Homo sapiens: one gene and its partners. The protein of the gene in region 3 interacts with the protein of the main gene of each other region in a biochemical or structural test. Each region holds a gene or a part of one and is shown on either strand. Other genes may lie near its edges. The genes, in order: ARHGAP31, TPTE2, TLN1, ITGA1, TPTE and FMO1.

Evidence for each region.
Region 1: the proteins of TLN1 (region 3) and ARHGAP31 interact in a test that uses a peptide from one of them, tested with the Homo sapiens proteins (one large-scale study listed by BioGRID and IntAct).
Region 2: the proteins of TLN1 (region 3) and TPTE2 interact in a surface display test, tested with the Homo sapiens proteins (one large-scale study listed by IntAct).
Region 4: the proteins of TLN1 (region 3) and ITGA1 form a complex in vitro, tested with the Homo sapiens proteins (one study listed by BioGRID).
Region 5: the proteins of TLN1 (region 3) and TPTE interact in a test that uses a peptide from one of them, tested with the Homo sapiens proteins (one study listed by BioGRID and IntAct).
Region 6: the proteins of TLN1 (region 3) and FMO1 interact in a test that uses a peptide from one of them, tested with the Homo sapiens proteins (one large-scale study listed by BioGRID and IntAct).

Annotation. Positions count from the first base shown.
Region 1 is NC_000003.12:119,416,383-119,418,798, reverse strand, and holds part of ARHGAP31 (rho GTPase-activating protein 31), read right to left. Parts: 3' UTR 1-2,416. UniProt on the Homo sapiens protein: Functions as a GTPase-activating protein (GAP) for RAC1 and CDC42. Required for cell spreading, polarized lamellipodia formation and cell migration.
Region 2 is NC_000013.11:19,464,033-19,467,532, forward strand, and holds part of TPTE2 (phosphatidylinositol 3,4,5-trisphosphate 3-phosphatase TPTE2), read right to left. Parts: intron 3,313-3,500; coding exon 3,193-3,312; intron 2,877-3,192; exon of another isoform or gene 2,780-2,876; intron 1,533-2,779; coding exon 1,433-1,532; intron 1,287-1,432; coding exon 1,223-1,286; intron 489-1,222; coding exon 424-488; intron 1-423. UniProt on the Homo sapiens protein: Acts as a lipid phosphatase, removing the phosphate in the D3 position of the inositol ring from phosphatidylinositol 3,4,5-trisphosphate.
Region 3 is NC_000009.12:35,701,196-35,704,695, forward strand, and holds part of TLN1 (talin-1), read right to left. Parts: coding exon 3,474-3,500; intron 3,304-3,473; coding exon 3,137-3,303; intron 2,980-3,136; coding exon 2,796-2,979; intron 2,706-2,795; coding exon 2,580-2,705; intron 2,482-2,579; coding exon 2,365-2,481; intron 1-2,364. UniProt on the Homo sapiens protein: High molecular weight cytoskeletal protein concentrated at regions of cell-matrix and cell-cell contacts. Involved in connections of major cytoskeletal structures to the plasma membrane.
Region 4 is NC_000005.10:52,951,916-52,955,415, reverse strand, and holds part of ITGA1 (integrin alpha-1 precursor), read right to left. Parts: intron 3,010-3,500; coding exon 2,965-3,009; 3' UTR 1-2,964. UniProt on the Homo sapiens protein: Integrin alpha-1/beta-1 is a receptor for laminin and collagen. It recognizes the proline-hydroxylated sequence G-F-P-G-E-R in collagen. Involved in anchorage-dependent, negative regulation of EGF-stimulated cell growth.
Region 5 is NC_000021.9:10,524,583-10,528,082, reverse strand, and holds part of TPTE (putative tyrosine-protein phosphatase TPTE), read right to left. Parts: 5' UTR 3,395-3,500; intron 729-3,394; 5' UTR 671-728; intron 1-670.
Region 6 is NC_000001.11:171,282,978-171,286,461, reverse strand, and holds the end of FMO1 (flavin-containing monooxygenase 1), read right to left. Parts: intron 3,319-3,484; coding exon 3,246-3,318; intron 2,540-3,245; coding exon of another isoform or gene 2,539-2,539; exon of another isoform or gene 1,965-2,538; intron 1,261-1,964; coding exon 918-1,260; 3' UTR 501-917; downstream 1-500. UniProt on the Homo sapiens protein: Broad spectrum monooxygenase that catalyzes the oxygenation of a wide variety of nitrogen- and sulfur-containing compounds including xenobiotics.

The DNA of each region.
Region 1 (2,416 bases), on a different chromosome or scaffold from region 3:
GAGAGTAGGGACTATCTCCACAGCTGTCAGTGTGTCTCATGATGACATCCCCAGAACTGTGTTCCTGAAGGTGATGCTATAAATGTCAGAGTCTAAAAGATCTTGCAACCATTTTATAAATCCACACAGGCATCTCAACCCTTAGAACTGAAGTCACTTGTTAATATGTAAATGGTGGCTTCTCAGTCTATCCCCAAATAAAAATAGATCTTATAAATGTTACCAAACAAACATTTAAAATAATCATAAAATAGTTTACATATTCATTATTTGGCTCAGAGTTCTGATGGTGAAGCAAAGTGCAGCTCTTTCCCTCCCTCGCATTCTAACTGGAACATGGTCCTTATCAGAGCGTCGACACCGCAGGAGCACTGAGGCTGACATAAAACCTGTCTGACACATTTTCTGATAAGGCAGGAATGTACTTTTCAGATCTCTTGAACATGGCCTTTCTCATCTGTCACCACTGTATTTCTTCACTTTGCTGGCCTGGGGAAAAATACTATATTCTAGGACTTTTTTCTTACAGGTTCATATCTCGTTGGCTGTTGGTTCAATGTCTTCCTCACCCAATGAGAAGGCCAAAACACTGATGAAAGGCCTTGCTCACTCAGTGCTCTCAGAAGGCAGAACTCATCAGCTGACTTGCCAGTCACCCTCGCCACAGACACTGGCTTAAAAGGTACAGAACAAGATTTCAAAACTGTTTGTAAGGCTTATTGGCGGGGAGGGAGGGAGGGAGAGGGAGGAGAGAGATAGAGAGACAGAGAGAGAGAGGAATATATATCTGTTGCAGGGCATCAGCTCCCAATTTCTCATTGGAGGAGGTAACTTCATCTCAGCCCCCACTAAGCCCAGAACCAGCCTTGGTTGTGACGCCTACCCAGAGGTACTATCAGCCCTTAGAGAAATTTCTGCAATGACTGAGCTTCTGGGCAGAATTCAGCCAGGCTTGAACCTGAGAAGAGATGCCCTGTGAAGTCCTTTTTTGGGCAGCACCAAAAATCTGCCAGCAGGTATATTAGTTCTCCTTTCTCTCGCCAGCTGGAAAGGAAAGAACCATTGAAAGTTATAAATAATTGAAAAGAAAATCAGATTGGTTTATTGCTTCTGCTTGTATACAGAGTTGAAGAGCAAGTTTGAGTGAGTGCCTGGAGTGGGCGGTGGATGAGGGGAATTATGGAAGGGAGAGGGGTTCCTCAAGTCTGTTATTTTTTAAGAGATGGGGTCTCGCTGTGTTGCCCAGGCTGGTCTTGAACTCCTGGGCTCAAGCAATCCACCCATCTCAGCCTCCCAAAGTGTTGGGATTACAGATGTGAGGCACCGCACCTGGCCTCAAATCTGTTCTTGAGCAGTAGAGAGGAAAGGAGAAAGGAAGGGACCCACTGGCTAAAATAAAATACATTTTTAAGAAGGGCAACTCTCAGTGAGTGGTTGTGATGGCCGCCCTGCTAGGGCTCTTCCCTCGCCTCCTGGAGCTCCTCCCTTCATCCTCTCCTGTATTGCTGGGCCCAGCCTAGTGTGGAAGAAGAGTAAAGCTGAGCTAGAATATTTTCTGCTGGTGCCCCACCAATTTAAACACATTAAATTTGGAGTGTAGTTCTGCCTTTGTATGAGGCTTTTATCTATGGTGACATCCTGTTCTTGGACTCTGATACTGTAAAGAAAGCAGATGCCTTCACTTCACAATTGCATACCTAAATGAAGATTTAGTACATTTCATTATGGTAATCCTCAGCCCAGCCTCCACCCTGCGTAGCTACTGGATTTATAAATTACAGTCCAGTACAGTGGCAGTTGGAGTCCCAAATTACTAAAAGCCAGAGCCAGGAAATCTTCTTGGATTGTGCCAGTCTCAGAGTTTGCTCTTGATTCTGATTTTCTATGCTGGTATATGGAAATCATCTTGGACAGGTCTCCAGGGATTCCAGGGAAAGAGCATGGGTAAGAGTGGCTAAGCTCACCCACTTGGATATCTAAGTGCACGTTAGTTTGCATTTCCAAATCCGCTTCTAATTTGGATAGTACATTTTACAAAGCTTATTAGAAAACTGGTCTAAAAGAACACGTTTGAAAGAGCATTAAAAAGCATAAAGAGGAGGCCTTCTAACCCCAATAGCAACATTTTGAGGTTTGACACAGCAAGAGATTTTTCTTTCTTTCAAAGAACATTACTTCTTTCTTTCAAAGGACAGCCAGCTCTCAAGAGTAATAGATAATAGCAATAGGGGAGCAATCTGACTCACATACAAGCTCCAAAGTTCATTGGAGGCAAGCATTCCATCCTCTCCCCTTACCTAACCTTCTCTCACTTGCTCACATAGACTTAACTAAATTTCATCTCTCGTTTTTCCCTTGACCACTCTTCTAGCAAATGGACTAATTAATAAGTGGTCAAAAGGCTGAAGAAAGAGAA
Region 2 (3,500 bases), on a different chromosome or scaffold from region 3:
ATGGGCCTTGGGCCTCGGGGGGGTGCACGTAGCATGCAGTGGCTCTGTCAGTTGAGGGTAGCCAAGCCATTTTAGACTAGCCAGTCCTCAGATGACCCAGTAGCTGCCCACAGATACATGAATGAGCTTAGTTGAGACAGGAAATCCTTTCTGCAAGCACCTGAATTGGACAGTTAAGCCCATACCAAATTCACAAACCACAGTATCATGAGCCAAATAAATAGTTGCTGTTATAAGCCAGTAAGTTTTGGGGTGGTTTGTAACCACTGGCACAATTGTAACTGGTATCAATCCATTATGATTTTTTTACTTGAAAGAGTACATTTTTAAAAGAATACTGCCATATCTGGGTCAATATTAAACTTATGACTACACAGTCTACATTCACTGAGAAATGAGTATTTGTCAGATAAAGACCCTTACCTCAATTGGATTTCTATAGAAAGACTGCCTTCCAGAAGATGGAAATGACATAGCAATAATACGTTCTGAAAGTCAAAATCATCACTATTACAAACATTATTATAGATTTCATATAACACAAAAAAAATTAATTTATACATGATCAGACTCCATTTTCACAGAAAAAAAACTTTTAAAATTGAGGTTGACAGAAAAGAGCTAATACTCAGGATAATCAAATAACATATTAAATTATCCAACACAATGACCATTAAACTGGCATGGAGTTCTTAAGTCTCCACTAGTTCTAACTGTATGCCATGTACTTATGATGGCCTCAGTCTGAAGTTCCCCCTGTTCTTAGAATTTATTTCTTATCTTAAATACCAGAGAAAATCCAAGATTTCTGGGCACCAGTGACGGTGGGAACTCCCAAGGTGCTTTGCAGCCCTCTGACTCAGAAAACCTGAGATCTACAAAACACTGACCTCATTCTCTGGGGTTCTAGGATGAGAAGAGGTCTCTGTGGGATCCTTGGGACTCAGAAATAACTACAAGAGGTTAATAAATTGAAACTCAAATGGAGTCAGCTGAAAATCCATTCAAGTTCCTATGCTGCAACTGAGTAGTCCTGAATTGAGAAGACATGCAGATCTTCCATTGCCAGGGCTAAACCACAAATATGTCACACTATCACAGTGGCATATATTCTCAAGAATAAAGAATATTTTGAATGAATGTGTCTTAGATGAGGCAAAAAAATACAATTACAAGAAAAAGTGAAGTAATACAAGTAAATCAACCATTAAGTGTCACAAACCTGTAACGTAAGTGAGGTCTAGGTCAAATCCATCCCTTGTGTATCGCCTTTTGTTTTCTGAAACCTGAGAGTTTAAAATCATCATTAGTTTGTGAAACATTCATCAACATAAAAATAAAAAACATTATACAGTATAGATATCAACCCTTGCCAATGGGTCCCAAAACACAAAATATTTTTCTGAATCATAAGCATGTTTTGCCCACTTACCAGCCTTCTCATCAGCTTTTCAAGTTGTCTTTTTTGATGAAGCAGATGAAAAATTCTTATCAGAATAATAAGTCGTAGAAGTCGAACTAAATGTGTCCATCTAACAATAAATTTAAAAGATCCATTTTTGCTTCAGAAACAGAATTTTATCAATATAAACTATGTCTAGAGCAGCAGTTGTTAACCAGAGGCAATTTTCCCTCCTCTCCCCAATTACCTACCTGGGGGATATTTGGCAATGTCTGGAGGCATTTAGGTTTTCACAACTTGCGTGTGTGCATGTGTGTTTGTGTCTGTGTGTTACTTACATCTAGTGAATAGAGGCCAGGAATTTTGCTAAACACCCTACAATTAATATAACTGCTCACCACCCTCTTATGACAATGATCTGGCCCAAAATGTTGGTAATGCTGAGGCTGAGAAATTCTGGTCTAGAGAAATAGTGATACGATAGACTCTTAGCATTTGTAAATTTAATTTTGGGATTTAAGACTAGCATTTTCAATTTTTCCACATCAAAACAAATCGATTATTCTTGTTCATCTTTGTTATTCCCATGAGTAACAGATGTTCACTACAGCTGCTAATGCACATCAGGCAGGCAACAGATTGAGATACTTCCAAAGTGTGCTAGCTGGTATCTCTCCTGCCATCAGAACCACCAAAGCAGAGAACTGATGGTCTGGACTAGTGCTTCTCTGATTTGGGCACATGTCAATAAGAGCCACCTGGAAAAGCTTGTTAAGCTGCAGATTGCTGGGTCCCAGAGATACTGATTCAGTGGGTCCAGGGTGGGGCCTAAGGTATTTTTCTTCTTATATTTCTAGCAAGCTGTCAAGTGATGCTGAGGTTTCTAGTCAGAGAACCACATTGGCTGAGGTTATTTTCAAATAACTCCAAAAGCCAATCACTTAACATGCTTTTAGTTGGGGCCTGAGCTGTAGTCCAGGGAAGCTAGGGTACAAAAAGAAATCAGCTATTTGACCCATGAACAAGCTTAGGAAGCCACCATCTACATCCCAGTATACATTTGCTCTTTCATTTTCCTCATTGTCACAGTAAAAAAAGAAAAAGAGTCACCAGGGCCTCATACACTGTTAAGTTTTCCTAATCCCTAACAGTTCTAACTTTGCCTAAGCTTTCTTTGTTTCTACCACAACTATACTGCAAAACTCTACTATTGTGTTGCTACATGTGTCATCTCCTAGTTTCTGTTCTGTTTGCTATTTTTTAGAAACTCATGATTGAAATCACTCAAATTTTGCATATGCTCAAATAAATTCCCTCTTGGCTGTAGGAAAAATCCAGACAGAACATTATGTGTAAGGGATTTGTAGTTGAAGCACAGAGGGGAATTGTTTTCAATATAAGTTTTTTTGATATAGCAGATATTAAACTGATAAGAATATTATACTTGATCTTAGCCAAAAGGCCAAAAAATGATACAAATGGGAATTCGATGAGAACTTCAAAATGTAGAGAAGTTAAAGTTAGTACAAGAGTAAAAGTCCTTCTTTGGGTACTGCCATCTTCTTTATTCCATTAATGGTACTTAGCGTGTATATTCTTCACTGGTCCCTAAATATCACAATCTTTTAGTTTCAAAGTATGTGGGCATTTACCCAAACATTTCATTTTAAAGCAATGTATTTGGTATAGATGAGAACATTTGAAGTTGAAAAGATTATATAGAATAAAAGCCACAGAAAATGCTAAAAGTAATGAAAAACTTTAAGAGAGGTAAGTCTTATGTTTCATACCTGGGAATATTCCTAAGCAACTTAATGTCAAAAAAAATGTAAATGACATCAACCAGCAGAGGAATCACAATAATGGCAGTATCTAAAATGTTAAATAAGTCAGAAAAATACTGCTGTCTCCTGTAATATAAAAAAAAAAAAAAAAAAGTTCATTTCCCTCTGCAAGAAGAGACAGGAATATTTAAAGACCACAAACTACTGACTCATCCCCATTAAGAATTCTACTATCATGAATTATTTAAAATGTATTTTCTAGAGTAGACTAAGGGAAAAACATAACATTCATGGGAAGTTTTCAAACAATAAAA
Region 3 (3,500 bases):
GGGATGGGGCACAGAAAGGAAGAGAGTAGGATGAGACTGGAGAAGCAAGCAGAGCCATCACTAATGGGTTTTAAGTAGTGAAGTGACATAATCTAATATATATATATTTCTTGCTCTGTCACCCAGGCTGGAGTGCACTGGAGTGATCATAGTTCACTGCAGACTTGAACCCCTGGGCTCAAGGGATCCTCCTGCCTTCAGACTCATGAGTAACTGGGACAGGCATGGGCCACCTTGCCCAGCTAATCTTTAAATTTTTTGTAGAGACAGGATCTTGCTATGTTGTCCAGACTAGTCTTGAACTCACTCAAGTGATCCTCCCATCTCAGTCTTCCAAAGCGCTGGGATTTTACAGGCATCAGCCAGCATGTCCAGACTCTAATTTATATTTTAAAAACATAATTTTAGCTACTGTGTACAAAGGAGGATTGGAGGGGGCAAGTGTTGAAGCATGGTGACTGGATAGAGACTACTGCATAAATCCAGTTAAGGACTGATGATGGTTTGGACAGTGTGGTAGTGGTAGGAGATAAAAAGAAAAAATGAGCTGTATTTGGAAGGGGCACTAGCAAAACTTAGATGTGGGGAATGAGAGAAAGAGAGAAGTCTAATATATTGAAGCTAGGTTTCTGGCTTTAGGAACTGAGTTACTAAGAGGTGCCATTTACTGAGATGGGGGAAGACCAGGAAAGGACCAGGTATGGGAGGCAGAAAGTCAAGAGTTCCAACTTGGACATCTTCAAGTAAAAGTGAAAACAGAACCTTAGAAAGATGCATTTAGAAATTAGAAAGATGAGTAGGGAGAGAGGAGAGTGGCAGGGACCAGAAGCAGGGAGACCAGGGAGAAAACTGGTGCCACAGCCAAATTGCGGGAGAGTATGGAAGTGTGAACCAGAGTGCGGACAGGGAACCAGGGAGGAGGAATGAAAGGACGTGGCAACAGCCTGGATATGGTGGCTAAGATGGTGAAGTCAAAGATGACTGAGGTGGAATCTTCATGACTGCAAGGGTGTTCCCACCATTAGGAGGACCATGTCATGGTTCGGAGGCACTGCATCTAGGTGGTGATGTCAAACAGGCAGTTGAAAATAACTCAACTCAGAACTGGATGTCTGCTTCTTACAGAATAATAATGAAAGTGGTTAAACTTGCCAAAGAAGAGAAGAGAGAAGGAAGACTATTTGTACAACCCTGGGAAGGCCTCCACATTTACTAAGTTAAAGGTGATTCAATGACGTTCGAGAAACAAGAGAAAAGCCAGTATCTAGGCCAAGGGAAGAAAGAATTTCATTTTTTTTCTTTTTTGTTTTTTTTTGAGATGGAGTCTCACTCTGTTGCCCAGGCTGGAGTGCAGTGGCGCCATCTTGGCTCACTGCAACCTCTGCCTCCCGGGTTCCAGCGATTCTCCTGCCTTAGCCTCCCAAGCAGCTGGGACTACAGGCGCGTGCCACCACGCCCAGCTAATTTTTGTATTTTTAGTAGAGACGGGGTTTCACCATATTGGCCAGGCTGGTCTCGAACTCCCGACCTTGTGATCCACCCGCCTCAGCCTCCCAAAGTGCTGGGATTACACCCGCTGGCCTCCCAAAGTGCTGGCGTGAGCCACCATGCCCAGCAGAAGAAAGAATTTCAAAGAGAGGCTTGTTAACACAGTCAGATGCTTTCGAAATATTCAAAGAGGATGAAGGCCAAGAAGTGGCCACTGAATGTAGCAACTAAGAAGAGGCCACTAGTGACTGGAGAAAGTGGGAGGGTGGTGAAAAAATACAGTTGTCACATGCTAAGGAATAAACAAGTGGGTAGGGGACAGACATGAATGTAGCTCACTGGCACAGTGGCTCATGAGTGTAATCCCAGCACTTTGGGAGGCCAAGGCGGGTGGATCACTTGAGGCCAGGAGTTCGAGACCAGCCTGGTCAACATGGTGAAACCCCATCTCTACTAAAAATACAAAAACTAGCCAGCATGGTATGCACCTGTATTCCCAGTGACTCAGGAGGCTGAGGCATGAGAAGCACTTGAACCTGGGAGGTGGAGGTTGTAGTGAGCTGAGATCACGCCACTGCACTCCAGAAGGAGGGTGTGGGAGAGCTGGGGTAGGGGAAGTCACATGGTGACTGAGGAAGATGCCATGTGAAATGGAAAGGTCACCCACACCTGGGAGAAATGACAAGAGGAGAGGGCTGAGAAGGCTGGAGGAGGATGGCTACAGAGCAAGACCCTTCTCAAAAAAAAAGTCTGGCGATAGATGAGAGAGAAGACTGTGTGTGACTCCAGCTGTGAGTATATGTGTGGCACAGGTTCACAGGCTTTCAGGATCCCTCTCTCTGACCCTAGTCACTGATGCCCCAGACTCTCACTCACCGCCAGCTCCTGCCGTATGTGTTCTGTGGTTGCCTCCAGGGCCCGAGTGCCTTTGGTGGCCTCATCTTCCACGGCTTTTACTGTCTTAAGCAATGATGTCACATTGGTCACCATCACCTGGAGGTATCAGAGGAGTGAAGAGGAATGATTTTAAGGAACAGGAGGAAGTATGTTAATCCAGTGCCCCTCCTGATGTTGCTCTCATTCTCTCCAACCTTGGCAGAGTTCTTTAGCTGCCACACAGCAGGGTCATCTCCAACTTTGCCAGCTGCAGCCTTCGTTGCACTGATGAGGTCTCCCAGGGCTTTGGCTACATCTTTCACTGCGTTGATTAGTACCACCTGTGTGGGAAAGCGTTGGCTCTGGTCTATGGGAGGAAGAAGCGGGACAGGAAGTGATTCCAGCCGGAATTAGGGGCATCAGGTCACTACCTGGGTCTCAGGGTCCTCAGCTCCCAGGCTGGCTGCACCCAGCTTGACCACATCAGCGAGGCGGGTGATGGTCGCCACGGAGGACTGGGCAGCCTGCGCCAACTTCTCCTGGCTCCCAGCTGCGTTTTGCACCAGGACCTTGGTGTCCTCCACCAGCACCTTCGCAGTCTTCAGGATGCCCTCCCTGAGGGAGGGCCCAGCTTAGTCAGATCTCCCCTACCCGCTCCAGCCCGTCCAAGGTGCCTGGTCCAGGTCTTCCCCATTCCAGCGAATGCTATCCTGCCTCTTCCAGCCCCGTGCCCCGACCTGTCTGCCTCCCTTAGGCCCAGTTCCTGTCTTACCGGTGGTCAGCGAAAGTTTCAGTACCCTCACGATTGAGCGTGCCAGCAGTGGCGAACATGATGGTGGTGTCGAGGTCAGCAATGATACCAGACACAGCGCTGGCTGCTGTGATGCAGGCCTGGGTGCCACGATTCCCAGCCTGGAGCGCAGCCAGGACGTGGGAGACCTGGGTAGGGAATGTCACATGGTGACTGTGGAAGGTGCCATGTGAAATGGAAAGGTTGCCCATGCCTGGGAGAAGTGACAACAGGAGAGGGCTGAGAGGGCTGGAGGAGGATGGCAAAGGCTACAGAGTTTGGAGGCAGTCCCACCATCTGCAGGGATGAGCACCGTCACCTTCTCAGAGACTCTCCGGGCACACTC
Region 4 (3,500 bases), on a different chromosome or scaffold from region 3:
CACAACATGTTCTCTATCAATATCTATCTATCTATCTATCTATCTATCTATCTATCTATCTATCTATCTGTCTATCGTGTAATCTGTCTCAGTGGTGTGCTGAAGTCAGCTCACACTGGTTGGTAAGAGGTGGCAGATACATTTCCAGGAATTTTGTAAGCTGATTAGGGTCACTTTGGTAGTTTGAAAATGGAGAGAGAATATTTGGACCATGGAAATTGGCAAATGATACAAATCAGAGACTGTTTTTTTTTTCCCTCCTGGACAGTGTGTTGTTAAATAATTTACCAATATACCATTGTAGTTTGGTCAGAAAAGAGAGTGCATACATGGTTCAGTTTACAATGGGAGCAATAATCAATTATTTAGAATACCAAAGTTAGAGAAAAAGAAACTTTTTGGCAATTTGGCCAATAAGTTTATAAATAGTCTTAAATATCACCTGTTTTTCTAATTAAATGTTTTAAAAGTAAATGATAGAGTCTAGTACATTTCTTAATCATTAAATATGTTTTATAACATTTGTACAAAGCTGTTTTGAAACATTTGTTGACTTTTTTTAATCAAACGCTCTGTACTTGTTTTTTAAATAATTGCAGAACTATAAGTTAAACCTAAATATTAATAAAAATGAAACTATATGAAACTATATGAAACTAGATGAATCAAACTTGTCTTGCAGATATAGCTTTTGTGTTTATTTTCTGTAAACTCTGTTTTTTGGTGTTATAGAGCTATTTTTGTATTCAATTTATATGTGTACATGTGTCTGCACATGCACACACACACACACACAAACCTCAACAAATTATAATATTAGAGAAACAGGACTTCTGGTTCATGAAATATTTTACTTAATAGCCAGGAATGACTTATGTTAAAAATTGTGCCGGGCTTATAAGTATCTCTTTGATCTGGCCAACAGCTCTTCCTCTCTTTTCTAAAAACTTCAAAATGCCCTCATTTCTATTTTTTCCCTTTCAGTTAACAATTTAGTTTAAAAGTGCACACTTATGGTTCAGTAAATGGGCTTTGTCTAGTAGTCACAGATGCTGAGTATGAATTTCAATGGATCCGTTAGCTTTACTACTAAGATCTTGCTGAGATCAGAGAAGGGCTTCTGGGCAGGCTGAGCACTGGGGGTGTGCAACATGGTAACTCTGAATAAGAGAAACCCTGAGTTTTACTGGGCAAAGAAAGAACAAGTGGTAGGTATGATTTCTGAACCTGGAAATAGCGAAAATGAAGGAAATTCCAAAAGCGCGTATTTCCAAATAATGACAGGCCAGCAAGAGGACACCAAACCTCTAGAAAGAGGTATTCTTTCTTCCAGCTACTGATGGCTTTGGCATCCCACAGGCGCATTCCTTTGGCCTTCAGGATCTTAGATGCGGATGTGGAGAGTCAAGAGGTAGGCTGACTCTGAGTCTTCAGCTAAATTCTTTGGAAATTAGTTTAAAAAAATAAATTTATAACATTTAATTTCTATGTGGATTTGCTCCTCTTTGAACAAAGCAGAGCCCAGGAGTTTCTGGATGAATACATGTTCTGGTCTTGTTACAGGTTCTGGTAAATCAGATGGAGAAATGTTGTTGCAGAAATGTCAGCAAACTTTACAGCAGTAGTTCACACATGCAGCTACTATACATTCATTCATTGCTATTTTCCTAAGAAATGGAGCAACCTAGGAGCTTATGCTACAGTAGATTCCAATGAACCATAATGACTACTTCAAGAACAAAGAAGCACATACAAAGGTGTGATATCTTCCTGTTGGTTTGAGTTTTCAAACCTGAAATTCTTTAAAATACATTTCTGGGATTTTATTTAAATATTGATGCAACACACCTAAAAAGCAGTGACTTCTTGGTAAAATGTAATACTGAAATGGAAAATTGTCTTTTCAAAAAAATAAGAAGTGTGGTTGGAAATTAAATACCTTTTAAAAAATTAAAAATAAACACACTCTCACAGCTTGGGGGTTTGAATGAACCCTGTACCAAGGAGTTGAGACAACTCTTTCTTTGGGTCACATACTGGAACCCTTAGCATTCAAAAGCTGCTCAGCAAAGATAATTTCAGCATTTCAGTGGCATCTTTCTCTGCTGTCGTATTTCATTCAGAAGCCATTTTAGCATGTCCCCCATATATGGCTTTTCATGACAAATCACTGTGATGCCACACAAAACTACTTTAAGTGTTTTTTCAGTATAAAAGAGTTTTGCATTTAGAGCTCAATATCAAAATTAAGCATGTTCTGTAAAAGCTTAATTTAACCCATTTAATATACTTGTTTTTAAACGAGTCTATCCTGATTTTCCATCCTAGATAAAATTTTAGCTCAATTGCAGTACTTTCCAATCACCTTGGGCAGGGAGGGAAAATTTTTAGGTATAGAACCCAACACAAAGATGCTAAATGTATTCTTGGTGACTTAATTTTCAATCCATATTGTATATGGATTCTACCAAGGGAAAATATTCTCATTTGAATAGGGAGAAATGATCTTTTTCAGGTAATTCTTTTCTTGGCATTTACGAGTGCTGACTGTCATGCTGAACATGGATATCCAACAGGAATCAAGGGGAAAAGCTTAATTTATATTGTTTTGAAAATAGATGTTTCTATGATCATAAAAATCTTTTTATATATTCCTTAAATATTTTGGATGGTGATTTAATACATAAACATATTTGTACAGGTTTTTTTAAAAACACTTTGTAATTTTGCTTACTCAACAAAAATGAGTAATTATGTAAAATATTTTTTGTCATTTTATAAAATATGTCTTTTTGGTATTGTTTTTGGATAATGCATGACCTGTCATTTTCCAAGTAATGAATCCCTGATGGATTACATAGTTACATGACTATGTCATGAATTATACATTTCTTGTCACATATTTGAGGCAAACCTGAGGATAGATTATTGAATAATTGTTATTATTTTCTTTCATAAAATATTTCATTTCTCCATTTTCTTTTTCAGTGGTCTTTTGAAGAATCCAATCTGTTGAGAAAACACAAAACATAACACAATTAACTATTTTAATTTAGGTAGCAAATATTAATCCTTTGGATAGAATTAAATTTAATAGTATATTGGCAATGCTGGGCACACAACTAATATAATTAAGAAATATTTTCTCATTGACCTATTAATATTCAATGTCAAAAAATGACATTTATTAAATTGCTGTTTCTTTTTTTTTCTTTTCTTTTTTTTTTTTGAGACAGTCTCACTCTGTCACCAGGCTGGAGTGCAGTGGCGTGATCTCCGCTCACTGCAACCTCCGCCACCCGGGTTCAAGTGATTCTCCTGCCTCAGCCTCCTGGGTAGCTGGGACTACAGGCATGCACCACCATGCCCAGCTAATTTTTGTATTTTCAGTAGAGACGGGGTTTCACCATGTTGGCCAGGATGGTCTCTATCTCTTGACCTCATGATCTGCCTGCCTCGGCCTCCCAAAGTGCTGGGATTACAGGCGTGAGCCATCGCGC
Region 5 (3,500 bases), on a different chromosome or scaffold from region 3:
GTTGGTAATAAAAATTGTTTAGGACTCTCAAAAAAGTTTAATGAATCAAGATTTAAATACAATTATTACTGAACCTGATCATCATGTGTGGCAGCAAATTTAACTTAAATTTCCTTCAAATTCATGTCCCATTTGTAGGCACACATTATTCTTGCCCATTTTGATTTCCTAATTATCAAGTCCCTCCACCACCTTCATGCTCTTCATGAGTCACAGATATCTTTGCTTCTCCTCAAATAGGATCAAGTGACTAAACCTGAGGCAGGGGCTCCATCCAATGTGATGATGGCTTTGAGTTTGGGGCACCAGCTCTGAAGGGTGAGGGACAGATACAGGGTCTCTTAGCTCCTTTCTTGCTGCTGAGGGCTCCTCTGCTGCCTGTCCAATGCTACCACCTTCTTTCTCCAAGTAGGATTCTCTCCTCTCTTGGACCACTCTTGAAGAGAGTCTCATACACAGGCATTCTGATAGTTTCCTAAGGTTTTGGCTGCTAATTACTTAGAGTCACAAACAATCTTTGAGTACCAAGCATCCTTCTTCTGACCTGATCTTATTTTTTCCACTCTGGTTCAAAAACAATGTTACCAAAGATGCTTAAAGTCTCTGATAGAAAGCTGTTATTGCCATTGATGCTCCCAGTATTTTTCACCACTTAGATCAGTCAACTCACCCATTGTGGTCATAGTTGTCAAGAGCATACAGTAGAATCTGGTAGTGAATCCATAACTCTACCAAAGAGTAAAAAGCACATACAAAAAATAAAGTCAGATATTTTGGAAGGCAATGAGGATGTTAATCTCAACAGTATTTCAGGACACAAAAAATAAAATCGGAGGAATTTTGACAAGAACTAAAGAAACAATTTCAGGATACAGCACTAGTACTTCTGAGACTGTGTGTGTGTGTGTGTCTGTGTGTGTGTGTGAGAGAGAGAGAGAGAGAGAGAGAGGGGACACAGAAAAAAGAAAGAAAATGTAAGAATAATGAATGTTTCTATATCAATGGCTAGTTCCCGGTCATCCTTGGTAGGAAATAAACAAGTAGATAAGTCAAGCCTTAATTATGTTTAAAACATTTTGTGAACTTAAAGTGGATTATGTGTTTACAATGATTTTGTTTTCTCTTTGTCTGGATTCATTTTTTTAAAGTTATATGGCTATGTTTTACAATATCAAGACTTCCTAGCACCGAAACCCCTGGCTTGGCTAATTTAATCTCTCTGCTACTTCATTTCCTCATCTGTAAGTTAAGACACATGCAAAATACACTCCACATCTGTCAACTTCATAAAACCATGCTGAATATTCAGCATTTTGCCAATATTGGTTTTTAGACAACCTGCTCTCTACACCATATATTATGCCATAAAAATCAGTATGTGGCAATATAAACGGATACACATTTTTAGTTTCAAATACACAAACATTCTCATCAAGGTAATACACTCCCAAGACTCAAGAATTAATGCTCTTCACCACAATTTTCTAACTTTTCAAACGTTTAAATAAGTTTAAGAAACTGATCACATACATTTTTTTGCTGCTGATAACAACTGGGATTCTCTAAGAGTGTGCTGAGGTTTCTTAACCTATTTGACCACAGAACCTCTTTCTCACAGTGGAAATGTGTGAGAAACACATTTTGGAAACAATATATTAAATGGTATCTTTTTATGTCTTTAAGAAAAGTTCCCCTACACAAACTAATTTTGGACTCTGATCAATAGCTCCAACCTTTAAGCACAGATAGACATTAATATTGTGCTAGTCTTTCAGCCTGTGAGGAAAGGAGTGCCAGAGTTCAAATTATCGCATCTCGTTAGCCTGGTCTGAGGGCCATGAGGGGAACCTTTCAAGTTCTAAGTGGGTGTTCTCATGTCCTTGAATGGCTCCTGGAAATTCATCCAGGTCTCAGGAAAAACAATAACCTTTTACAAAAAGAAAGGCATCTATAGGCATCCGCTACTTTTCAGCAGGATGAATAATTGGATTGTCTATGCAGAATACACTAATAAATCATAACAGGGGAAAATGTTCAAAACACCAAAAAGGTAAGAATTTGAGTTTCTGACATAAGCAGCCTTATTAAATGATTACTAGATTTTTCAGACATCCTCTACTGAGGAAGAGAACTGGAAGACACTCAAATTACTCCAGATTCAGGTGACAAGCCAGGATTGCTAAGCAAGTTCCTTGGGAAACTAATCTCCAAAAAGGGCACGAGACATCCATAGATGTTACCTGAACTCCAGGGAGAGTACTGCATGAAGTCTGAAATAATACTTTGATAAGCTGCTTTGGGGCACAGAATGACTTCCCTCATGGGACATGAATAAGTAACTAGCTAAATTGCCCCCTAAGGAAGGTGAGAATTGCAAACCGTCCTAAACTGAAGTGGTCATGCAGAATTCTTAAATGCTTTTTGGTAGATAGGAGCAACCACAGAAGTTTGAGTTAGCTGAAGGTTAGCTACACCTTTATAATCATGCTACCAGGTTATAATGAAAAGTAGGTCTCCGACCAAATCTGCCACACATACAGATATTCATTTAACAAAACATTCAGTAGCAAGCAGACACAGTATATAAGCTTCTGTAAGCTTTCCGCACTTTAGGTACTCCAAGCATGAAAGCTTCATTCTCAACAGATTCCTAATGTTTCAGAGGCCAAAATCTTCCTAAACGTTCCTGGAGATAGGACCATATGAGGATCAAGCCTTGGGTGTCGTCTCTAAATATACACTACAGGCCACCCTCATACACCTTTATCCTGTTTATGCAAGGGTGGGCTGTCTCCAAAACACGTTAGTTGATTCACAGATCTTAAAATGTCATATAATTGTAACATCCATCATGCTGCTTTGTAAGCCGCCAATTTCACTAATAAAAACCCATTTGTGACCTTCACTGTAATAATTAACAATGTTTCAGGTGTTAATTGAGATGGGACCACTGAAGCCCTTTTGGTGGCCATCTCTGTGGAGTGGCTTCCTGAGCTGAACACTAGCTTACCATCCTTGAACAGAGCATCCAACATTAGGGCAACCAGCTGCCCCTGTAGGAAAGATTAAAGTGACCAGTATATGCATATTATCACACTGCCTAAAATGTCATAGAATGAGGCTTGGTTTGTTTTTTAAATTTTTTCTATTTCTATTATTTTTCTATCGAATTATTTTTCTATTTTTATTTGCTGGGTCACAGACAACAGCAAATTCCATACCTTCAGAGTTATACCAGCTCATCTGCAGTAGGAGTAGAAATATCAAAGCTCTCAGTCTACCACCTTGTGCTCCAGAGATGTGGCCCAAGCACATCTTTGGACGTGAACCAGGGCAACCCAAGGCAGAGCTGGATTTCTGGGAGTTTCTCCCTATAAGCCCTGGACATGCTTACCTATACACCAGACTGCTTCCAGAGCCACTGCCGGGCAGAAGAGCCTGGGGTGTGTTCAGCTGCTAGAATAACACAAGTCTGAGGTCTTGTGTCGTCGGTCCAACAT
Region 6 (3,484 bases), on a different chromosome or scaffold from region 3:
TGAAACTGCTGCTTTTGACACGATGTTTGCTTTTGTTCCTCTTTTTCTTTCCCTTTTTTCCTCTCCCTGCTTTCTCTCCATTAAAAGCTTCTTGGCTGTGCTCTTTATCTAATGAATTCCAATTGAATTTGGTTGGTTCTCATTGACTCTTTAAAAGGAGGCAGCTCCATTTGCCTCTTACAGCAGGGTTGTGAAGGAGGATCTAAGCAGGTAGGCTTTTTCCTTTGGCTGCTGGAGGCTGGTTCTAAGAGCCCGTGGAGGTGGTGGTTTTCTGTGGAATCTGATTTGGGTCTTTGGGAGGCCAGCTGGAGTAACAGCTTTGTTATAAAGAGTGTTCTGGAGGAATGAACAGTCCCAGGCAGGTACAGTCCTTTGGGAAACTCTCAAAGTAACTCATTGAACCCCCTATCCTTTTATGAGCTTTATTCATAGAATCCTCATCTTTTTCTCCCTTTTCCCAATCTTTAATAAGAGAACAAAAGATCACTTAAAACAATCAATTTTTAGGTTTATTTTTTACTTTTAATAAGCCAGTACTATAAGAGCACCATTTCAGCACAACACAATCATTTGTGAAGTAAGGGGTTTTAGTTGAGATCTGTGAAAATAGTTTATATGGGAAAGAGGTATGATGGCTCAGAGTGCTGTCAAGAACAGCTTTCTTTCTAAAATGAACCTGTAACTTTCCAACAACCTTCAAATGCACAGAAGTCTTAGTTATCATTCTCTAGCATTAGAAGTGGAGCTGGGAGAGGCTCAGGAATACCAGTGGTAGCCCTGGGGCCAGCCAGGGAAGCGAGAGGGTGGCCTTTACTATTTGAATACAGTTTATAACTGTGAAGGCAATATTGCTGTAAGAGAGGAATTGGAGCATTGTAAATCTACTCTGTGCATCTTCCATTTAGGAGATCTTTTACTTATAGGAAAATCAGAAAAATAGCCACAAGCAAAGCCAGAAAGCTAAAGACTTTAAGAAAACTTTCAAAGGGAGATGGAGACTCTTGTACAACTCGAGCTTTGATGACCTTGAATGTTCGGTCCCACTGGGTCATGATGGCATTTCTGGCTCCTTCCCATTTTCCTGGGCCAGTCAAGCGGAACTGGTATGGTGAGCATGGGCCAAAGAAGACGGTCAGAGCCAGATGTGGATCCGTTAGGAGCATAGAGAACAGGTTGGGTTTTGCATTGATATAGGTCAGGAGTTCATCTATGTATGTGATATAATCTGATTGTAAAGCCTTGCAGTAGCACAAGCCAAACCTTTATAAAAGGAAGATTGGGGGAAAAGGTGAAGACAAAAAAACTGATAATCTTAGAACAAGTACAAGTGCCCAAAGCAAACAAATACTGCTGCAGAATTTGGGATGGTTTCTGCATTTTCCCCTTTATTTCCCTACCTATCTAACGGTCTCCTTCTGTTTCTTAAATCAAGATGAGTCCCTTCAAAAGATACTTTATACATATGGCTTTTAATGGGTGCTCTGAGTGCTCATAATGCATCTTAGTTCTTTTGTGAAATAATTAGCAATTTCTAGAGGAAAATATATTTTAAAATTTCTAAATCTTTATAAAATTCCATTATTCAGTAATAACAAATCCAATGATTTATATAATGTGAAAAGCCACAAAAATCTATAGGGTAAAATTCCCTGAAATGCTGGTATTAGGCTTTAATTAATTAATTAATTTTTCTTTTCCTTTTCTTTTTTTCTTTTTTCTTTTTTTTTTTTTTTACAAGGTCTTGCTCTGTCACCTAGGCTGGAGTGCAGTGGCATGATCATAGCTCACTGCAACCTTGAACTCCTTGGCTCAAGCGATCCTCCTGGCTTAGGAATAGGTGGGACTACAAGCATGAGCCACCATGCCTAAATAACTTTTATTTTTTTTGTAGGGATGGGGGCTTGCTATGTCATCCAGGCTGGTCTCAAAGTCCTGAGCTCAAATGATCCTCTTGCCTTAGCCTCCCAAAGTGCTGGGATTACAGGCATGATCCACTGCACCTGGCCCCTAAAATTGTTTGCTGACATGCGTGACAAGAAGATTTTCATTTTATAGCAGTTCTAATTAGTTATCTATTACACTGGAGTTCCATAATGAAGATCAAATCATATCCCAGGTTGAGGATAAAGAAGAGACATCTAAAATGCTATTATTGTTTTGGAATTTGGTACCTTGACAAGGATAGATCAACCCTTGAAGTTTGGGAATATATATGAACAAGAGAGTGATAATAAGTTCCTTAGATGCAATGATTTTAAAACTTGCTGTTTTTTGTTTTTTTTTTTTTGCCACAGAACCTTTATTTCAAGTGAAAATGTATATCAAACGCAGAAACAGATGAACAGATAAAACAAAGTGGTTTTATCAAACCACAAAACAATCAGAAATGTTTTGGTTGGATTGAGAGTGAGAGGGGAGGGCCAAGACTCTTTACTTTGCTGGCCATCAGTCTTCCATTGTCTCTAGCCTTGAGTGGTAGCCACAGAGCACAGCATAAGTGAAAACCTTTCCCATAGAGAAGTGCTCAATAAACTTTATTCTGAAAAAGGCCAGACAGTAAATGTTCAGGCTTTGAGAGCCACATTACAGTTTCTATCTCAACTGCTAAACAACTTTGGTACTGTAACACAAAAACAGCCATTGACAATATGTAAATGAATAACCATGGCTGTGTTCTAATAAAATTTTATTTATGGCCAGTATGGTTTCCATTTCATATGATTTTTTCACATGCTACAAAATTTTGTTTTTCTTCTTCCTTTTTTCCAGCCAATTATAAATGAAGAGCAAAAGCCACACTCCGAATAAAAACAATAGAGCTGATAGAGACTTGTTCAGTGAATGAATGAGCAGACACTTCTAGTGTCAGAGTAAATAGGTACAACTGCTTGCCTGTTGATTATGGATAAGATATGGAATAATGTACCTGGTAGATTAGGGTTAATTATGTAGTACTTGATTTGGAATCCAAACTCTATGTGATACTAGAAAACCATGGGCTGAAGTGATGACTTTGGGGACATTAAAAATTCTAAATTCCCCTTTCCCTTCTCTCTTCTTAAACAGGCTCTCCTAGTATTTTTCTTGTAAGTCTCAGATGCTTCTTTTTTTCTCCAATGTAACTTTCATCTCTCTGCTATTGTTTTTTTTTCTTTTTCATTTCCTTTTTTTTTTTTTTTTTTTTTTTTTTTTTTTTACCAATTTCAGTTATAATTTAAAAAGGGTGCATTAAGTAGTTAACTTACCAACTGGGCTTGTTTTCTTTCCTTGCATTAATTTCCTCTATCATGACACTTGGTGGTGGTAACTTATTTACACCTGTAGGATTAAAATAAAAACCTCAAATGCAACTTAAGTTTAGGTCTAGCTGTTGACTTATGGATAAAGATGCTTTACTATGGCTCTCCTTTCACGTCTAGTACCAGCTACTCATTGATCCTTCTGGCAAAAATGTTAGCAGCCTGAGCTGACTGGTTGTATGCTC